Linked DNA regions of Homo sapiens. The protein of the gene in region 1 interacts with the protein of each later gene in a pairwise test. Each region holds a gene or a part of one and is shown on either strand. Other genes may lie near its edges.

Region 1 (3,752 bases):
TACATCCAATCATATCCATATTTTGGATCATTTTTTTCTATATTCATCAGATTATTGGTTAAAATGCACAGCAAGTAGAAATGATCCATTTCAAAATTCTTAATATCTAGCGTTCTCTGTAAAACAAAAGCTGACAACAGTTTTATTGTACTCCTATTAAATGTAGGTGCATGTTCATTAGGACATCTGAGCTATTTTTAGGACCTTCAGAAACTGGTGTGATTCACTTTGGCCCTCTGAGATAGAAATGCCATCTTAGTATTTACTGTGACTACATACCTCTTTTGTTAAAACTTGACCCTGAGTTTTGAGTGCTGGAATATAAACTGTAAAATGGAAAACACTCCAAAATACATTAGCTAATATTGGTGTCTCTACAATACTGTGCTTTTTCTCTCCATTAACATAATGCATCTGAGAGTACTTCTCCTTCAGCATGGAGTAAGAGGAGGGATTTGAGGGAATATCCAAATCAGGAAGGAGGAAATGTCCTCTCTAAAAATTCCTCTCAAAACTTTCTAAGAATTTATTCTAAAATATTTTGGTGTTTGTTTTAGTATAAAAATGTCATTTCCCCAAATCTGAGTAATATCGACAGTGCATGAAAGAAAATATAGCATTTTCATCCTGCAGGTTTAGTTGCCTGGGGGAAGTCCCACAATCCCTGGCTTAATAAACACAGCATTACGCTATAGTTTTGACTCTATAGAATTCTAAATGTTCTTTTGAAAATCATACAAGCGGTTCTTTTTCTTAAAGTTAGGTGTGTTTACACTCAATTAAAAATTTCTAGATATTGAAAGCAGCTCTACAGTTCTTAAAATATTCACAAAATATAAAATTAAAATTAAATGAACTAAAGTAACTTCCAGTGGTGACAATATTCTCACAGTAGCAAATAATCTAACTTCTAGGAGGTTTTTTCCCTATAATGCCAGGATTATTTAATACTGACAACTAAGTCTTTAAAACATTATTATGTTAAACACTGCAGTTTACCTAAATTACACAGAGAACAAAAATTACATCAACATTGAAAGCTCAAAAGAAGTTAATAAAAATATGTGCTCCTTAATGCTCCAATGGATCCCTAACAGGGCTAAGCAAAGCTATTATTTTGGGTTTTATTTGAAAATTTTCTTTTTCTTGGAGTATTTTGTTTCTAGACCAACTACTACAGTTTAAAGCACAAAAAATGTTGATGTTTTTCTTAAATTATGCTTCAGATCTAGTTTGATTGTATAATTTCTGTGTGGCATTAGTAATTAAGATATATCCAGCTCTGAAAAGCACTGAAGTTCTTTATGTGAGCTACAAAAGATACCCAAAATCCTGAGTGCTGTGACAAACTTCTTATTTGTATGCCCAGATGGCATTCTGTCTTTCAGTGATGACGTCTTTCAATTACTGGTCATATGTGACCAATGCCCCCACCCCAGCCAAAAAAAAAAAGATAGGACTTGTTTGTCTTACTATGAACTTGCTAAAACCATTGTATGAACGGTCTATAAGGATCCAGATGTTTATTTCAAAACCCAAACCCTTGTTACCTTGAAGAATCTTTACATATTTACGTAATACACTGTACATTATATGCATGGCCTGTTTATACTATTTTCAAAAAGAGAATATTGTTTTAAACTATTAATAAACCAAAATTAATTGATAGGGCAGCATCAATCTGTATTCCATCCTTGGTCCATGGATTTCCTTAAATGATGGCATCATGTTCATCTCTGTAATATATTAAAAGTTACAATTACTTTGTTTTGTTTTTTCTGTCAAAACTACTTATGTTCCTATTTGTTAGTAAAGTAGGATTAGAACAATTTCAAGCTGCACAATCAAAATGGTCAGTGTTCTGTGTAAAGTTCCTTAAGTATCCAATATACTGTAGTGGTTAAAGATCTGGGGGTTAATGGCATGGGGATCCACCATCTTGTCTTGCTGCAATCATAGACACAGACATAGCTTCTATTTGTAAGTCCCTATTAAATATTTCTTTCTAGCTGGTCACAGTGGCTCATGCTTATAATCCCAGAACTCTAGGAGGTCAGAAAGGAGGATCACTTGAGCCCAGGAGTTTGAGACCAGCCTGGGCAAAACAGTGAGACTACCATCTCTATAAAACATTTAAAAATTAGCCTGGTGTGGCATTGCATGCTTGTAGTCCCAGCTACTCAGCAGGCTGAGGTAAGAGGATCACTTAAGCTCAGGAGGCTGAGGTTGCAGTGACCCGTGATCGCACCACTGCACTCCAACCTGGGTGACAGAGCCACTGCAAAGCACTCTGTTTAGTCATGGTTTCTTTTATGTATTCTTTCATGTATTGACCTTAAAAAAGAATGTTTCTGAATATGCCTTTAATCTGACAAACCACCACCTTAATATTCTTTTAAAATCAGTTTGAGCCTACAGCCATGCCACTGTGAATGTGTCTGATCTCATGTGATCATGGAAGCTAAAGTGAGTTTGATATGATAAATATATGCAACGTAACTTTAAATATAACTTTTAAAAATATGTTTTTAAGGCCAGATATGGTGGCTCACGCCTGTAATCCCAGCACTTTGGGAGGCCAAGGTGGGAGGATCACCTAAGGTCAGGAGTTTGAGACCAGCCTGGCCAACATGGTGAAACCCCATCTCTACCAAAAATACAAAAATTAGCTGGGCGTGGTGGTAGGCACCTATAATCCCAGCTACTGGGGAGGCTGAGGCAGGAGAATAGCTTGAACCCAGGAGGCAGAGGTTGCAGTGAGCCGAGATCGTGCCATTGCACTCCAGCCTGGGCAACAAGAGGGAAACTCCATCTCAAAAAAAAAAAAAATCTGTTCTTAAATTATCATTTTTGTTTAAGTATTAGTAATATAACTGTTAGATCCAATTTTCATTTATGATGCGATGTTTATTTAGAGCTTATGTCAGTAACCTGAAAATCTGGGAAACTTCCATGTTCTTAAAATCTATCAAGAAGTTTGATTTACTTTTATGTGTACTGAATCATATGTAGTGTCAAAACTGGAAGATTCCAATGGCCTATTCCAACATTTCCCAAAATGTGTTCCACACAATACTAGTTCCAAGAGATAGACAGTGTTAGCTCCCATTGAAGAGGGGCAGGGGGAGGGATTTATTCATTCAACAAGTATTTTGGTTAAAAATTTGGGAAACAGTTCATACTGTATTCCATCCTGGAAAATCATAATGTATATCAATATTTTAAAGGCTTAGAGAAGTCTTATAGTAAACTGTCTTAGTTTACTTTAGTCAACTGAACATTTCCCACACTTTTTGATATAGGAACTGTGTGTGTGGGACACATGTATGTCAAATGTTAACCCACAGGGCAAATTTTGGAAAACAGTCATCTGTTCTATGGTATTTATATACATTAACACTAAAAAAAGTGAATTAGCTCTTACATTTGTGTCACCCAATATGAGTATGTTGAAACCCTAATCCCAGTGTGATGATATTTTGAAGTGGGGCCTTGGGAAGGTAGTTAGGTCGTGAGGGTGGAACCCTCGTGAACAGAATTAATACCCTTACAATTAGAGGTCAGAGAACTAGCTCGCCTTCTTTCTGCCATGTGAAGAAGGCCCTTACTAGAACTCAACCATGGTGGCACCCTGATCTTGGACTTCCAAGCCTCCGGAAGTGTGAGAACTAAATGTCTGCTGTTTAAGGCACCCAGCTGTATGATACTTTGTTGTGTCAGCATGAACTAAGACAACACGTAAGACTCAAAAA
Region 2 (3,748 bases), on another chromosome or scaffold:
TGGTCCCTGTAGGAACCCTTGTCAGTTGACTGAGTGCTAGATGCTTTGTATACATTATTTCATTTTAATCCTCATGACTCTGGGATACCTATTGGGATCCCACTAGATGGATCAGGAAACTATTAAAATCATTCCCAAAGTGGTGCAACTGTGAAGTGCAGGGCCAGGATTTGGAGCTGGTCTCTGATTCCAGACCCTGTATTCTTTCAGCTTATCTTGCTCACTCCACGTTAATATTCCCCACGTGGGAAGAGGCATGCTAGGTAAAAAGAAGGCACCGCCCAGAGGGGCAGAGGATCCGTTCTAGAACAGTGTTGTCACATTGTCTGGTGGTAAGAGCAGCATTGGTGGTAAGGGCTCAAGGTAGGCTGTGGCCACAGTGCCAGGGTGGCAGAGGAAGTAGGAAGTAGGACTTTGGCGTCAGAACTGGTTTTGAAGAACTTAGTCAATTGCTGATGCTAAGTGGATGAACCTGAACTCTTGCAAGCGGTCTGACCTTGCACACATTCCTTAAACTCTGCTCTCTAGTTGCTTAATCTTGACAGATGGAGAAATGGGGAAAATGCCTGCTTCCTGGGGTTGTAGAATTAAAGTATTTAAAGTACTTATTGTCCTGCATGGTATGTAGTAGGCATTTGGTAAATGTTAGATTAGTACTTTTATTTTTGTTGTTTTTATTGTTAACACAAGATGTTTGGTGTCACAAGGGTTTGGTCTTTGTGCCGAAGGCCTGAAGAGTATTTGCAGGTTTTAAATACAGGAGCATGTGATAAGACCTGTGTGTGTGTGTGTGTTTTGGGTTTTGGTGTTTTTTTTTTTGAGACGGAGTTTCACTCTTGTTGCCCAGGTGGGAGTGCAATGGCGCGATCTCGGCTCACCGCAACCTCTGCTTCTCAGGTTCAAGCAATTCTCCTGCCTCAGCCTCCCGAGTAGCTGGGATTACAGGCATGCACCACCATGCCAGGCTAATTTTGTGTTTTTAGTAGAGATGGGATTTCTCCATGTTGGTCAGGCTGTCTCGAATTCCCGACCTCAGGTGATCCACTGGCCTCGGCCTCCCAAAGTGCTGGGATTACAGGCGTGAGCCACCGCGCCTGGCCAAAACCTGTGATTTAGAGAGCTCTGGTGACTGCGATGCTGGATTAGAAGGAGGAGCTAAGGACTAGAGGTTGTAGAGTAATTAGTGGAAGATGATGAGGGCCTGACCTAGGCTGGTACAGTGGTAATAAAAAAAAGAAATGGATGTCACTGCACGATAGAATAGACAGGACTTGGTGACCAGCGGAGTGTGTGGGAAGGTTGAGGGTGAGGAGACCGGAAGAGTCTCTGCAGAGTCTCTCGAGGATGCACAGGTGGATGGTGGTGCCTTCCGCTGAGATAGGACATCTGGGAGGATGAGCAGAGCCGATTTGGGGTGGAAGGCAATGATTTTAGGCTTGAAGTACCGAGTCGCGGGTGCCTGGAGTATATCCAGAGGGCAGAAAGCAAGTTACATCAAAGGGGTAACGAAGGTGAATGCTTCCCGAGGCCGGGTAGGTGATGTCAACAGGTCAGACTGAAGCAGACAGATGATCATTTTACCTGTGAGTCAGGTCAGGCTCCTTTCTGAAACGCCCGGATGGCTTCCCATTGCACTTACGTCAATTCCGCATTTCTTTCCATGGCCTGCAAGGTCTGATTTGAATTGGCCCTGCTTTTTTTTCCCACCTCATTTACTACACATTTTTCTCTCTGACTGTGTTCCAGCCACAGTGATCTTAGTGATTTTCAAGCATATCAAATTTGTTCCTGTGTCAGAGCCCCCTTCTCCCTGGCCAAGCCCTCGCCACCAGATGTTCTCCCACTGGTTCCTCATCAGGTAGCTCGTAGCTTGCCTGGTATCTCAAGGAAGCCTTCCTGCCTATACCGCCGCATCTGAAGAGGTTACTGTGTCCACCCTGTCTTGGGTTTTTTTCCATAGCACTTGTCACTACCTGAAATACTTATGTGCTATCTCCCTCCTTCCATTCATTCCATGAGGCCACAAGTGTGTTTTGCTCATCAGTATCTCTCATTGCCTAGCGTAGTGTTGGGCATGTTCCACAGCATGGAGAGCCAGTGCTTCTGGGCATTGCAGTAGGTACCAGTGAGAAAAAAGGGGAAAATCTGCATATTGAGTATTTATTAAAAAAAAAAAAAAAAAGGAGCCAAATGAGGAAGACAGGAGGAAGTTAAATGAGAGAGGAGACCAGCTATGATCATGACAGGGAAGTCAGTGGTAAGGTATCGCAGAGTGGTTGTCAGAGGGTCATCAAAGATTTGGCCCTGCTTGGGGTAATTGAAGTGTGCTAGCGAATCTAATTAGTCCTTGCGGTCAAGTTGCTGTGGGGTCAGCGAGATGGAAGGGTCACAGAACACTGACTTCAAAGGAGCAAATCCAGAGGGCCTGTGTGAGAGGAGTCTGATTGGGAGGCTCGTTCCTTTCACTCCAAATTACTTATCCTTTCAATCCCTTGACTTCCACAGGAAGCTCTTTTGAGGCCGGAAGCTCTTTTCAGGTGTTGCTCTCTGAAGATTTCTTTGAGCAGTTTTAGTCTTTATATTTTAGAAAAGATGAATCTCCAATGTAAAGTTGGGCAATTGATTCCAAGTCGGAAGCTTTAGGGATTGAAATGATAGTTCTAGTGAGGGTGGGTACCTGCTTTTTAACCTGGTGGGACTTGCAGCCGACTCAATACCTGGGCTTTCTGAACATTTCCTCGCGGCTTTCCTTTATCTGGAAGCGTTGGGACTTTTCGCCACGCATTGAGACTTTTCGGTTTTTCAGGCTTCTGCTTCAGTTTACCCAACCTCAGCAAACATCGTTTGCTTTGGAGAGGAACTTAAGGACTCAGCAGGAAATTGAAGATAAAATGAAAGGGTTCAGCTTCAAAGAAGACACTTTGCTGTTGATAGCTGAGGTGAGTGTATCCCTCGGGTTTATGTGAAACGAAGCATCATAGATATTTTCCCTGGCTCTGATAGCATTTTTTATAAAGCAGGGCCAAATTTAATCTACTGAAGGACTTGTCTCCCTCCTCTGTGTGCCTTTTGATCACTCAGCAATCACCAAGGCGGCCTCTTGATCGGCATTCCCCTGCAGCGTGCGGGACCGCAGGGGCTGTGTTTCATGTACTTGTCAGTGCTTGTTAGCACCTGCCTGCCTGAACATCATCAATGCCCAATAATTGTTTGTTTCAGTGCTGAATAAATGAATGAATGAATGCTTACATTTGTGTAGCAGTTCTATTTTTTTTCCTCCATTCATCATAACAGCTTGTGAAGTTGAGTAGAGCTAGAATTGAGGCTCAGAGAACTTGTGACTTGCCTGCGGTCAGATTTTCAGTGGGAGAGCTGGTCTGGAGCTTGTGTTTGCCAGCTGCAAGTCCATTTTATTCCTGCTCTACCCTGTTACTACTTTGATGGTTGCATAGAAATTCAAAGGTAATTTTTTTTAAACTAACATGTAAACCTTCATTAACTTTTTTTTTTTTTTGAGACAGAGTCTTGCTTTGTCTCCCAGGCTGGAGTGCAGTGGCACGATCTCGGCTCACTGCAACCTCTACCTCTTGGGTTCAAGCGATTCTCATGTCTCAGCCTCCCGAGTAGCTGGGATCACAGGCATGTGCCACCACGCCCTGCTAATTTTTGTATTTTTAGTAGAGACAGGGTTCACCATGTTGGCCAGTCTGTCTTGAACTCCTGGCCTCAAGCAATCTACCCACCTCGG

What was found.
Region 2: the proteins of TMEM123 (region 1) and ZHX1-C8orf76 interact in binary tests that used the Homo sapiens proteins (3 or more experiments, as listed by UniProt).

What each region holds. Positions count from the first base shown.
Region 1 is NC_000011.10:102,397,156-102,400,907, forward strand, and holds part of TMEM123 (porimin precursor), read right to left. Parts: intron 1,737-3,752; coding exon 1,712-1,736; 3' UTR 1-1,711. UniProt on the Homo sapiens protein: Implicated in oncotic cell death, characterized by cell swelling, organelle swelling, vacuolization and increased membrane permeability.
Region 2 is NC_000008.11:123,225,691-123,229,438, reverse strand, and holds the end of ZHX1-C8orf76 (zinc fingers and homeoboxes protein 1), read left to right. Parts: intron 1-2,806; coding exon 2,807-2,966; 3' UTR 2,967-3,248; downstream 3,249-3,748. Other genes in the region: uncharacterized protein C8orf76, read left to right, coding at 2,807-2,939.